3 separate regions of the Homo sapiens genome follow, and regions 1 and 3 are each linked to region 2. The links come from fine-mapping of genetic effects on gene expression. A gene starts in region 2. Each other region holds a variant in brackets. All regions are shown on one strand. Distances are from middle to middle.

Evidence for each region. PIP is the estimated chance that this variant, and not a neighbour inherited with it, causes the effect.
Region 1: its variant is the best candidate, but not a certain one, in a credible set for the expression of SMYD3 in whole blood (TOPMed, PIP 0.62).
Region 3: its variant is the best candidate, but not a certain one, in a credible set for the expression of SMYD3 in whole blood (TOPMed, PIP 0.50).

What each region holds. Positions count from the first base shown.
Region 1 is chr1:245,812,394-245,816,632 of GRCh38, reverse strand. All of the region lies in intron 10 of SMYD3 (SET and MYND domain containing 3), which reads left to right. Among named protein-coding and RNA genes, the nearest start is that of SMYD3-AS1, 290 kb to the left of the region's middle. RefSeq lists an enhancer at 1-415. The variant G/T (reference allele first, on the strand shown) is at 2,292.
Region 2 is chr1:246,505,560-246,509,798 of GRCh38, reverse strand. It overlaps SMYD3 (SET and MYND domain containing 3), which reads left to right and starts at 2,520. Exons shown (of 12, transcript NM_001167740.2): 1 at 2,520-2,745. The coding sequence starts at 2,582. RefSeq lists silencers at 1,661-1,893, 2,383-2,562, 2,833-2,882 and enhancers at 2,568-3,068, 3,069-3,569.
Region 3 is chr1:246,320,919-246,325,157 of GRCh38, reverse strand. The region is part of intron 5 of SMYD3 (SET and MYND domain containing 3); the gene reads left to right. It overlaps SMYD3-IT1 (SMYD3 intronic transcript 1), which reads left to right and starts at 2,720. Exons shown (of 2, transcript NR_189283.1): 1 at 2,720-2,874; 2 at 3,290-4,239. RefSeq lists an enhancer at 363-883. The variant T/C (reference allele first, on the strand shown) is at 2,247.

The DNA.
Region 1 (4,239 bases), 690 kb after region 2:
CTCAGATGGAAATGCAGAAATCACCGTCTTCTATGTCACTCACGCTGGGAGCTGTAGACTGGAGCTGTTCCTATTCGGCCATCTTGGCTCCTCTTTTTTTTTTTTTTTTTTTTTTACATAGATGAAGGGGACCTCTCATAATAGATGGCACCTTGAGTTGGGTTGTAGCTGGCTTTTGCAGTTGCTTAGATGAGTATTGCATTGTTCCAGTCGTCCTATTCTGAAATGTGTCTGAGAATCCTGTTTTAGAGCCAAGCTCCATTCTAGCAAACAGTAGTGCAAGCCCCACTCCTTGGCCTGATTGATACAGTAATGGCACTGTCCACCCCCTAGCCACCCCGGGAGTACTCTCTGTGGGGAGTTTGCTGCTGCCGTCTAAACTGAAATGGACTTGATTTTCTCTTCTGAGTAGATGCTCAGCTGTAATCCATTGGGAGAAAATTCTTGATTTCTTGGGATATTTAGGAAGGCTAGCGACAGGTAGGAGCTTCTTTATTTATTATGCTTTTCTCTAGAAGCTTCATTGAATACATTATCTTCTGCCCCACACCCCAGGGCTTTGACCAAAATATCCTTGAGATACTGTGGCCCATATTCGGTCACAGAGGTGCACTGTTCTTTTGAAAGAATGGCATGCCGCAACTTACCTACTCACCTACAGAAGGTGAGTGCTGCAAGGCAGTCCCAGTAGGCACTTGGAGTGGAGCTTTGATGAATCCGAAGGATCATGGGCTTTGGAATCACAAGACCCAGGTCCAAGGCCTGATCTCTGCTTCTTACCAGCAGGCTGTGAAGGCTGTGAAACACTTCAAAGGCCCGTAATTTCTCAGTTTGTAAAAACAGCGATTTTCATTTCTGTCTCTTAGGGGTTGATTCAGTGAGACAGTGGCTGTGGAAAAACTTTATAGACTGTAAAGTGTTAAAGACATATCCTTTGTCTCTGTTCTTATCTAAGAATGATGTTTTAATGCTTTTGAGCAGGACACAGAGAGGTGCTACAGGGACAGGGTTGCTTCTACCACCAGCCATCTGGCTATGTTGATAACTGGGATCTGTGTACTTCTTGACCTGTGATGCTCAAGTCTTAATATGCATCAGAGTCACTTGGGGGCTAGGCCCCATGTCTCTAAAATCCCCTTGGTTGATCTGGGATCCATGTGTCATTAGCTCCCCAGCTATTCTGATGGAGGTTACCCATAAGCTCCACTTTGAGAAAAACTAGAGCGTACAGCTTGGACTAGATGACCATGGAGATTGGGATGGAAGGAAAAGCATGGTAGGGTCATGTCTGTGTGCACCCCTGAATGAGAGGCAAGGACTCCTTCGTGTTGAGTTAACCAACAGCTCTTCTGGGCTCTGCCACTATCACGTTCCATTTGTTAACAGTTGCTTCCTGTGTGTGTTTGTGTTTTTTTCTGGTTGGGATGTTTGGCCTCTTTTAGTTGTGAGAAACAATGCTGGGGCCATGAGTGTAAAAGCATCTTCTGTTTTATTGTTGGTAGCAATAGTTGCCTGGCTTGACTGAAAGTCATTTTCCTTGGAGGTTGTACCTAAAGATTTAGCGGATGGATCAAGACCATTGTCCTGCTCTGGCTTTCTGATATCACCTCACCTCATGGTGTCTGTGGGCTTAGTTTACCCTTCATTTATTTTGAGCACCAATGGACAGCTGTCTTTGTTTTGTGTGTTTTGTGAGGAAGATGTCTTGGGAGCCTTCAGTGAAGATAGAGTGTGTGTGTGTGCATGCGTGTGTGCGTGCGTGTGTGTGTGCTTGCGTGTGTGTGCGTGCATGTGTGTGCGTGTGTGCGTGCGTGTGTGTGTGTGCATGGTGGGATAAGGGATAAGGTCATTTGAGAGGATCTGGAAGCCAAGGGAAACAGGTCTGCTGGGAATTCCAAAATTCTGTCTAGTAGAAGATCTTAAAGTTTATTCCTCATCGGAGCTCTTAGCAGAGCCGGCACAAGCTTAAGTGACCTTGAAGCCTTTAGAAAGAGCAGCTTCTCCGCAATGCCAGTCACATGGCACAGAAGATCAAGATGTTGTTTAAATAAAATCTTGCAGCAGCATCCATTTCACAGGTCCCTGGGGCCGCGTGTAGTCAGTACTAGAAGGGCAAGACTTTAAAACAAGTATGTGGTGTAACAGTAGCATTCTTTTTATTTTATTTATTTATTTTTATTGTTTATTTTTTCGTTTTTATTTTTTTTTTGCCCCCAGTTGAAGAAGACCAGGAAAGAATCTTCTTTTAAAAAACTGAGCTCTATCTGTCCTGATTCCTGGTGCTGCTTCAG[G/T]TATCTACCTTAATTTTCTTATATTCCTATGAAGACAGTGGTTTGGATAATTGGAGGTAGCTATACACTGAAATTATTAAATTGTTTACCTTCAAAACAGGAGTAGACCAGAAATGCAGGTCCTTGTCCTCAGAACTGCAGTTCACATCATATTCAGTAATTAATTTAATAGTCACGTTTTCCTCCCAGGCTAGACAGGAAGGGCACTAACTTTGACTTAGGATCCCTTTTGTAGCTCCCACATTATGTGAGGATATCAATTTGCCTTCTGTTTATTTTTCTTTATTATAAAAATAAATTTATTATAAAAACTTTATTATAAAATTTTGCTGTCATTTAAAAATATACGGAAAAGGTGAAACAATGAAGAAATCTACAATCACCTAAAAGCAACTACAATGAATATTTTAGCTGATCTCATGCCAGTGATTCATCTGTATATATATATATATATATATATATATATATATATATATATATAGGGCTCCATGAATTAACCTAAATGACAGAGCAGGTTAGGTGCTTAATATTCTGAGGCCATCTAAACTCAACATCTTGCCTTTCTCTTGAGGGCAGCTCCTCCACTAGTCCCTTTTCTTCATGGTTTCAGAGACTTTCCCAGCCTGCCAGTCTTCATTTGGAGGCTTTCTATGGAGCTTTGTGAAATCACAGTAAACCCTTTGACATGCAGCGCTGTTGCCCACCTAGTCTTCAGCCTTGCTGTAAAGGTGAAGTAGATTAGTTAGACAGGGTTTTGCCCTTCTGACTCCTTGTTGATTATCTCTTTTTAGATAATTACTATTCATGTACCTTTCTCAATGCCCTTAGGTGAGAGAATAGCTTCCTTTCTTCCTGATTTGATTCTGTAGCATAGACAACCTTCCTTTCAGGGGGCTGGATTCATTTAACTCTTATCTTCAGGCCAGCTGCTGTGCTTGCACCTGGGGGAAGGAGGTTTGCTTGTGTGCTGCATGTTGACCCTTATACATTTTATCTAAGAGAACATTTTCAAATGAAAGAAGCTGTCTAGGCCTGGTGCGGTGGCTCATGCCTGTAATCCCAGCACTTTGAGAGACCCAGGCAGGTGGATCCCAAAGTCAGGAGTTCGAGACCAGGCTGGCCAACATAGTGAAACGCCGTCTCTCCTAAAAATACAAAAATTAGCCGGGCGTGGTGGCGGGCGCCTGTAGTCCCAGCTACTTGGGAGGCTGAGGCAGGAGAATCACTTGAACCTGGGAGGCGGAGGTTACAATGAGCTGAGATCGCGCCACTGCACTCCAGCCTGGGCAACAGAGCGAGACTCCGTCTCAAAAAAAAAAAAAAAAAAAAAAAAAAAGAAGCTGTCTCATGACCATGGCTCCATGCCTTCCTCTCCTCCTCACCTCCTCACCCCAACTACCCCTCTATTCTTTGCTCAAATCAAACTCCGGCTTGCCCACTAGATGAGATTTACTCACCCACAGTAGTCTGTATTTTTCCAAAGAAGAAAAAGAGGTATTCATGACTATATCCTGATAAATGATGAAGCCTTCCCTCCCAGCCCACTCTGAGTGAGTGAGTGACCCCTTTCTTCTCAGTTCCTGCTACTGAGTGAGTTTCTCTGTCTCTCTCGCTCGCTCTTTCTCTTTTTTTTTTTTTTTGGAACTGTTGTTTAGAAGTAAGAATTTGTCATTCTTACCAAAGCACTGGGCATGGGCCTGTTCTCTCTTGGGCTACTCTGACCAGGGGTTGGTTTCCTAGACCTGCATCCAGGTGTGTTTTCACGGAAAATACCCCTCCCTCTCTTAGGGTTTCCTCGGGCAGCCCTGGTGACGTTGGTCACAATGGAGGATGCTGAGAGGACAGTGGTGGTTGGGCACACCCTCTCGTAGAGCACAGGACCAATGTCTTCCTGACGGTGTTCACTCATTCCTTTGTGCGGCCATCAGATAGCAGTGGTGGTGCCTGG
Region 2 (4,239 bases):
TGTTCAATGAGGAAGCCGGTCCCGTCAAGGCCATGAGAGAGAAAGGTGAGCATGGCATCCCTGCAGCCCAGCCAGCCAGTAGCATGCCCTGGGTCCTTGGTCCCAACCTGTGGAACAGTGTCCCCCTCCCAGGGCACAATTCGCAGGCCAAGAGGGGCCTGGCCTAGACCCCAGCCCTGGGAAGAGCGGGGAACCAGAGGTGTGGTGGGCTCCCAGCTGCAGTCAGCATGGCCATGCAGGGGGCCCTGGTACCACGGAGCTCTGCACTGTCACAATTCACCTCGCAGGGGCCGGCGAGATCCCGAAGCCTCGCAGCAACTGCTGCAGCCACAGCAGGCGCCACCACCACATGCCTTCCAGCCGCCAGTGCAGGGTTTCCCGACAGCAGGGTGTCCTGCAGCCCTCGCCTCAGCGGCTCAGACGCTGAAGGTATCTGTGGTTCATGTTTCTAGTGCTCCCACCAAAGAGAATCACTATGGAGGATGCTCTTGGTCCTGAGGTGAGCAAAACAGCACGCCCTGTGAATGGAGCCGGCTTCTTTCCTGGCCACCATGCTTGCTGGATGGGCCCACGGAGCAAGTGGCCTTGAGACGGGCATGGGAACGGAAGAGGCTCAGCATCCTGCACGTGCCCTTACCGAGGCTCACCAGGCTGACACCACTGCTGAGCGCCCCTCCGTGGATGAGACACTTGCACCCAGTCTCTGGGTTGGCACCATTTCCCAGGAGGACCAGCTGGCCACCTGCTGGCAGGCTAATCACACTGTGGAGGGGGCTGAGATTGGCTTTCACTGCACCAAGCCACAATGTGGACGTGGATTTGCCGGCCCTGCAGTGCACACAGCACTGCTTCTGACCAGGACACCCCATTCACAGCTGGGGATGTGCAGCATTGCGCTCCCACCTCAGGGCCTTGGCTCTGCCACCTCGACTTGGAATGTTCTCAGCTCCCTCCAGGCTTCTAGAAGCATCTGGGACACAGCTCATGGCTGGATAAGCACCCGAGGCCCCACAACCCAAACAAGCTTCCCATCCTCATTTTATTTTTTGTCAAACTTATGAAAATTTATTAAGATATGACTTACATCCCTGGTAAGTGCACAGCTTAAAAGATATTCACAGATGGAACACACCAGCCCCCAGATCACAAAGCCAACCATGCCCAGCCCCTCCCAACACCCCCAGCCCTGAAACCAGTGTTCTGACTTCTGACAGCACCACGAGCCTGCCTTTTGTACTTTACACTCATGGAAGCATAACCACCTTCATGTTTTAAAATAAATGTTTACTTTTGAAATGACTTTAGATACACAGAAAAATTGAAAGGCACTATAGTGTACTCCTACACCTTCCATCCAGCTGCCCTTAATAATGACATTTTGCATTACCATGGCACGTTTGTCCAAACTAAGAAATTTAGGCCGGGTGGGCTGGGCGCGGTGGCTCACGCCTGTAATCCCAGCACTTTGAGAGGCCGAGGCGGGCGGATCACAAGGTTAGATCGAGACCATCCTGGCTAACACGGTGAAACCTCGTCTCTACTAAAAATACAAAAATTAGCCGGGCGTGGTGGCAGGCGCCTGTAGTCCCAGCTACTCAAGAGGCTGAGGCAGGAGAATCGCTTGAACCCGGGAGGCAGAGGTTGCAGTGAGCCAATATCGTACCACTGCATTCCAGCCTGGGCGAGAATGAGACTCCGTCTCAAAAAACAAAACAAAACAAAACAAACCCCAAAAACAAAAAAGAAAATTAAGCTGGGTGTGGTGGCTCACACCTGTAATTCCAGCAATTCGAGAGGTCGAGGCAGGAGGTTCAGGTTCACTTGAGGCCAGGAGTTTGCGACTAGCCTGGGCGACATAGGTAGACTGTCTCTGGAGGAAAGTAAAAAGCATTAGCCAGGCATGGTGGCGTGAGCCTATAGTCCCATCTAGTCAGGAGGCCCAGGCGGGAGGATTGCACATGCCTGTAGTCCCAGCTACTATGGAGGCTGAGGCAGGAGAATCGCTTGAACCCGGAGGTCAGAGGTTGCAGTGAGCCGAGATCTCGCCACTGCACTCCAGCCTGGGCGACAGAGCAAGACTCCGTCCTAAAACAAAAAAAAGTTACAGTGCAAAGTACTAGTTGTGATGTCATGATGCCTGCAACTTTGAAATAGTTTAACGACAATACGTGTATACATAGCTACAGGTGGGGAGAGAGTGACGAGCAGAAATGGCAAAGTGCTAGGTTGTCTGATTTAGGCGGAGGTATATAGGTGTTCACTGCACTGTTTTCAACTGTTCCGTATGCGTTAAAATGATCGTAATACAATGTTAGAGGGAGAAAAAAAACCCCGCCTGTCTTCTGCGCAGTCGCCATGGGCACGAGCCGCACGCGGAGCCTTACGACCACCTTCAGGTCCCACACACTCCACTCCAGCCGTCCCTCCAGACTCCATCTGCGCATGCTCTTGCCCCACCGCGCCCGCCCCGCCCCTCGGGCGTACGTGTGCGCGCAGGGCGCAGGCGCGCGGGTCCCGGCAGCCCGTGAGACGCCCGCTGCTGGACGCGGGTAGCCGTCTGAGGTGCCGGAGCTGCGGGAGGATGGAGCCGCTGAAGGTGGAAAAGTTCGCAACCGCCAAGAGGGGAAACGGGCTGCGCGCCGTGACCCCGCTGCGCCCCGGAGAGCTACTCTTCCGCTCGGATCCCTTGGCGTACACGGTGTGCAAGGGGAGTCGTGGCGTCGTCTGCGACCGCTGCCTTCTCGGGTGCGTAAGGAGCGCCCTCGCCTACCTGAGTCGCGAGCTGTGTGGGGTGCTGGGGAGGGGGGGGCGTCGGGCGGCCGGCAGCCGCGGGACTCCTGCTGGATGGGGCTGCACAGGCAGCTTGGCGGTGCTGCCCCTGACGCGCGTGTGCCCGGGGGCGGGTCGCTGCTGACAGGCCCCGCCCGGACACCCCCCTAGGTTGCCGCAGCGGGGCTGGGAGGGGGCCCAGGCTCAGCCACTGCCCCCCAACCTGGGCTGCGGTGGAAATGGGAAAGCCATTGGGCAGACTTGAGGGGGAAGCGTTGTGCCGGGGATAATTTTGCTGGGAGACGAAAAGTCTGTGTGCTGGACAGTCTTCCTTGGTGCGGCTGTGGAAATCACACGTGGCGGGCGTGGGGCTGGGTGGGAGCTGGGATGAGTATAAATCAGGCTCCCCTGCAGAGGCCCCGCCGGTAAAGCATCAGGCTTGCAGCAGGTGGAAGAATCTTGATGTCTACGGTGCACCTCTGTGGTCTGGGTTGTGTGTGGCCTGGGGATACGAAGAGGAACGGGACCTCCTCAAAGAGCTGATCAAGTGAGAGAGAGAATTACAGTGTACCAGAAGGGCTGAAATAGAGGGGCAATTAATGTGCTGTGGGAGCATCAGACACGGGTCCCCCGTGTGCTGTGCCATTTAATGGCTGTGCAGGCATGTCTAACTCTTAACCACCATTCTAGATGCAGGGATTCACGTGAAGGTGTTTTGGAAGCCTGGACGCGCTGTGCCGGTGTAAAGTGCTATGTGAAAGCAATTTATGGAAATGTGTAACATACATGAATAATAGGAACTGCATTCAGTCAACAAATATTATTGAGCTTCTGTGTGCGAGGAAGAAGAGTTCTATTTTGAGATGAGTGCGATGATTTTGTGCATGGCCGCTTTTCAGACCTGCCAGTCTGAGATTTAGGTGGGTGGAGGTGGGACGGTAAGTGCAAAACTCGTATCTGTAATTTGACCATTGTTCTTACTTTGTTCTCATTTGATTCATAATTCAGGAATATGACTTTGCATTTTAGAGCTACCAAATAATAATTTTGTCTGTTGCTTTCTGAAGTAATGATAACAGCGAAAACATCTGTTCGGGAGAGAGCAGCATCTTGAAGTTTTTGTAAACTGTGTGGTTGAAAACAATTCGTTCCTTTCAAGATAGTTCTTGGAACAGAAAAGTTTTGGAATGAATAAATGGTGACAAATTGGCAATTGAATCATTAGAGCTGAAGTTGAGTCTTGTGACACACGGAATTGTGCATTTCCAAAATAAGCTACACAAACCCTTTGTGGGTGGGATGCTTGTTGATTTACCATACTATTTCATTAGTCTCATTCATTTTTCCTGTTTGCAGTAACTGGGGATTTAAGCAAAAAAGGAATTTAATGAAAGAGTTTTGGGGGAGTTCTCAGTGTTGCTTTAAAGTCTGCCAAGACTTGACTGGGCATCGGCTGAACCAAGTTAGGAT
Region 3 (4,239 bases), 180 kb after region 2:
CCGACTCCTTCTCCCTCCTTCCCGCCCCCGCGACTCCTTCTCCCTCCTTCCCGCCCCCCGACTCCTTCTCCCTCCTTCCCGCCCCCGCGACTCCTTCTCCCTCCTTCCTGCCCCCCGACTCCTTCTCCCTCCTTCCCGCTCCCCCGACTCCTTCTCCCTCCTTCCCGCCCCCTGACTCCTTCTCCTTCCTTGTTCATGAAAGATCCTAAATTAACCTAAATAGATCCTGCAGCTTTCAGGGATGAGTCACTGAGCCCAGAATGTTGACGGTGTGTGATGGTGCAAGTCACATCAAGCACACGGGAACTGGGTGAAGATCCCTGGGCAGAGATTTTTATCCCAGTCTACTGCTCCTCTCCTCATTTTACTCTGGTATAAAATTAATTAATCAAAGAGAAGAAACGGGCACCATAAAAAAATAACATAAAACAGGATTTTGTTTATTGAGGCCAGGTAAAGCCAGCCTTCTTCACAGCGAAAATTCAAAAGTCAGTTCATTAGGCTGTGGAAAGCGGGTCAACATGCAACTATCCCTGACTGACAGTTTGTACATACAGAGGAAGCTGCTGACTTCTGAATTTACGCTGTCAACAAGGCTGGCTATACCTGGCCTCAATAAACAAGATCTTGTTTTTTGTTTTTCTTTTGGTTCCTCTCATTTACATTCATTCAGGTTCTGTGCAGATAATAGACATACTAAGCTTATGTTTTAGCCCATCTTTTTTTTTTTTTTTTTTTTTTGAGATGGAGTTTTCGCTCTTGTCGCCCAGGCTAGGGTGCAGTGGCGCAACATCGGCTCACTGCAACCTCCGCCTCCCGGGTTCAAGCGATTCTGCTGCCTCAGCCTCCCAAGGAGCTGGGATTACAGGCGCCTGCCACCACACCTGGCCAATTTTTGTATTTTTAGTAGAGACAACGTTGCACCACGTTGGCCAGGCTGGTCTCAATCTCCTGACCTCGGATGATCCGCCCGCCTTGGCCTCCCAACGTGCTGGGATTACAGACGTGAGCTACCGCACCCGGCCAGTTTTAGACCATCTAATTTTCATTGAAAGGCATATGGAATTCTGAGAGCTTTTCTAAAATTGCTTATGTCTTAATTTTTTTGACTTTTAAATTATGGACATTTTCAAACACACACAAAAATAGAGGGACTAGTAGAATGAATCTTCATGTTTCTATCAGCTGGTTTCCCTAATTTTCAGACTCATTTTATATCTGTCATTTTTAATACTTACAGTTCACACAGATGTTCTTTCTCTTCGGAGTTTTAAACCTTCATTAGAATTAGTCTTTTCTTACCAAGTCTCTTGCCCTGCTGAGAGGTGTTTGTTAGTTGAATCTGAATTTGCTTAGCAAGTACAGCAGACTTTTATTTATTTATTTGCAGGTCTAGTGTGTACAAAATACTCTTGACACAGGGTTGTAGAAGTATGTGGCTAATTCTAAATCTCAAAATTATCTATCAAGGCAGAAAACTTCAGCAGGTCAAAAGTCTTACTTGAAGAATATGCATATCTTTATCAAACTTGCACTTCCCCTGAAAGGAAAGGGCTCAGGGAGGATGAGAAAGTTCTTAATCCCGAGAGCATATTTCGTCGTCTGGTGAGCTGATGGCTTTTTCTAATGGAAGCTCATGATTATTGCCTGAAAAGTTGGCAGTTTGTATTTTGAACACTGGAGTTTCTGGCGGAAAAATGGTGTGTCTTTCCTGTCGGACCGGGTTCTCAATGCTGAACGTGCATCTGCTGCGTAAGCCTTAATTTTACCTGGAAAATTTCTTCTGTTACTTGTAATTTTCCCGGTCATATTCCCAGATATTCCTCCTTTTCACCCCACTTCTTAGCACCAGTGTTAGTCTGACTCTGACTCTTAGCACCAGTGTTAATACACACACACCCTAATAGCAATTGGAGTTTGATTGTGGAGTTTTCTATATAGATATATCCTGTCCACTTATGAATTTGTTGCCTGGCTGTAAAAACTGAGTAACATGAGCCATAGGAAGGAGGAATTTTTCTAGGGGTGGGTGTCAAGGAGGACCTCATATCAGAAGTGGAAACTGACGTAAATTTCAAAAGCGAGGCTGGTGTTGGGAAACAGTGATATACAGTGGTCTAGAAATGCTGTTGGGGAGTGAGGGTGTTGATTCCTCCAACCTCCTGAGGGAAATATATCAACCTCCTCCGGAGAAGGTTTTCAAAGGAAGTTGTTACCTGTGGAATACAGATTTCAGTTATATTTAG[T/C]AATTACAGTAGAGTTAGAATAAGAGCTTGATGTTTAAAATGTTTGTTTTGCACTAAATGTAATAGAAAGTGAGGGTAGGGATACTCCCAGAATTTCTCTAGAGGAGGGGATGCTGAGTGATAATCTGTTGGATGGAGAGGCTAGAGCAAATTACTTGCAGCTTTATTTGGATAGTTTTGTTTTTTTTAAAAAACTTAGATTGTATGTTCCCTGGGGAGTGTGTGGCTGAACGGAGATAAAAGTGTAAAGTGTGAGCAATGAAAGGTGTTAATTTCCACAGACAGCAATGAAGGTGTTGAAAGGATAGGAAGTGCACCGGGGATATACAGATGAACACAGGAGATGTGATTATTTATATGCATATAAAAAATAAAGGCCAATTTCATCTCTGCTGGCTCTTTTTCACATTGTTTAGAGAAGAGAAGATGTATGTCTCCATCTCTACAAGCTGTTTCTCCTCTCTACCACACACTTTTTTTTTTTTTTAAATCTCCACTTCCATTTTCAAACAAAATTTCCTTTGAGATTTTTTTCCCCCTCTTTGGGAATAGGGTCTCACCCTGTTGCCCAGGCTGGAGTGCAGTAGCGTGATCTCGGCTCACTGCACCTCTGCCTCCTGGCTTTCAAGTTGAGTCTTGTGCCTCAGCCTCCTGAGTAGCTGGGATTACAGGCATGCGCCACCACACCGGGCTAATTTTTGTATTTTTAGTAGAGATGGGCTTTTGTCATGTTGGCCAGGCTGGTCTCAAACTCTTGACCTCAAGTGATCCACCCACCTTGGCCTCTCAAAGTGCTGGGATTACTGGTGTGAGCCACCCCACCCAGCACCTGTTAGATTTTGAAATGGATTTATTGGTCAGGCACAATGGCTCACTCCTATAGTCCTAGCACTTTGGTATGCCGAGGCAGGAGGATCACTTGAGCCCAGGAGTTTGAGATCAGCCTGGGCAACATAGCGAGATGCCATCTTTACAAAAAAACTTAAAAAAAAAATTAGCTGAGAGCAGGGTGGTACACACCTGTAGTTCCAGCTACTTGGGAGGCTGAGGTGGGAGGATTGCTTGAGCCTAGGAAGTCGAGGCTGCAGTGAGCTGTGATCTCACCACTGCACTCCAGCCTGGACTACAAAGTGAGACCCTGTCTCAAAAAAATTTATCATGGCATGACAAATGCTGTGATTCGGTGTACTGATTGGGTCCGAAACATTTGCTACAAATATAGAAAATGTATATACTCCTAAGCATAAATATATCCTTCGAAACTCAGAAAATTACAATTAGCTACTCGGTGTGCTGAGATGGGAGGATTGCTTGAGCCCCGGAGTTTGAGACTGCAGAGAACCATGAGTGCTGCTTGGGGGACGGAGTGAGACCCCAACTCAAAACAAACAAAAATTACAGTTAGAGAGAGGCCAAATTTAAATGGGAGGCTGAATAATATGATGGTTAGGTCATTTTCCTCAGTCAAGTAAATAAAATTCTCTCCATCTCAATTTTCTTATCTGTAAATGGAAATACTAATATCTACTTCATAGATTTCAAGGAGGATCAACTATAACGTACTTAGTAGTGTCTGACACATATTATTAATTTCTACTACTGTTGCTCCCACCTCTCAGCTTTATTTTTATTGGATTATAGAACTTTGGTGTTTTAAATCTCCCTGTGCTGTCATCTAGCCAAGAGCGCAGTCTGCCACTGTTTGTAAACTAGAGTCTCAGATGGTTGCTCACAGTTGTGCCCAGTGCTGGTGTCTCTTGAGATCCTGAGAATTACCTGTTTTGTTGAGAAGAAATTTTGCAAACAGGCAATGGTGTCTTTTCTTGAGGCTTAGTTTCAGTCATAGCCATTGTGGACAGAAATCATGTACTGTTGCCAACATTCTTAGAAACTCCATGGTATCAAAGTAGTTTCTTGGAATTTCACGTGGGAAATGTAAAAGTAGGCTTCCCTTGATGATGGAAATCTTTCTCACACATGCATCTTAAAAGGA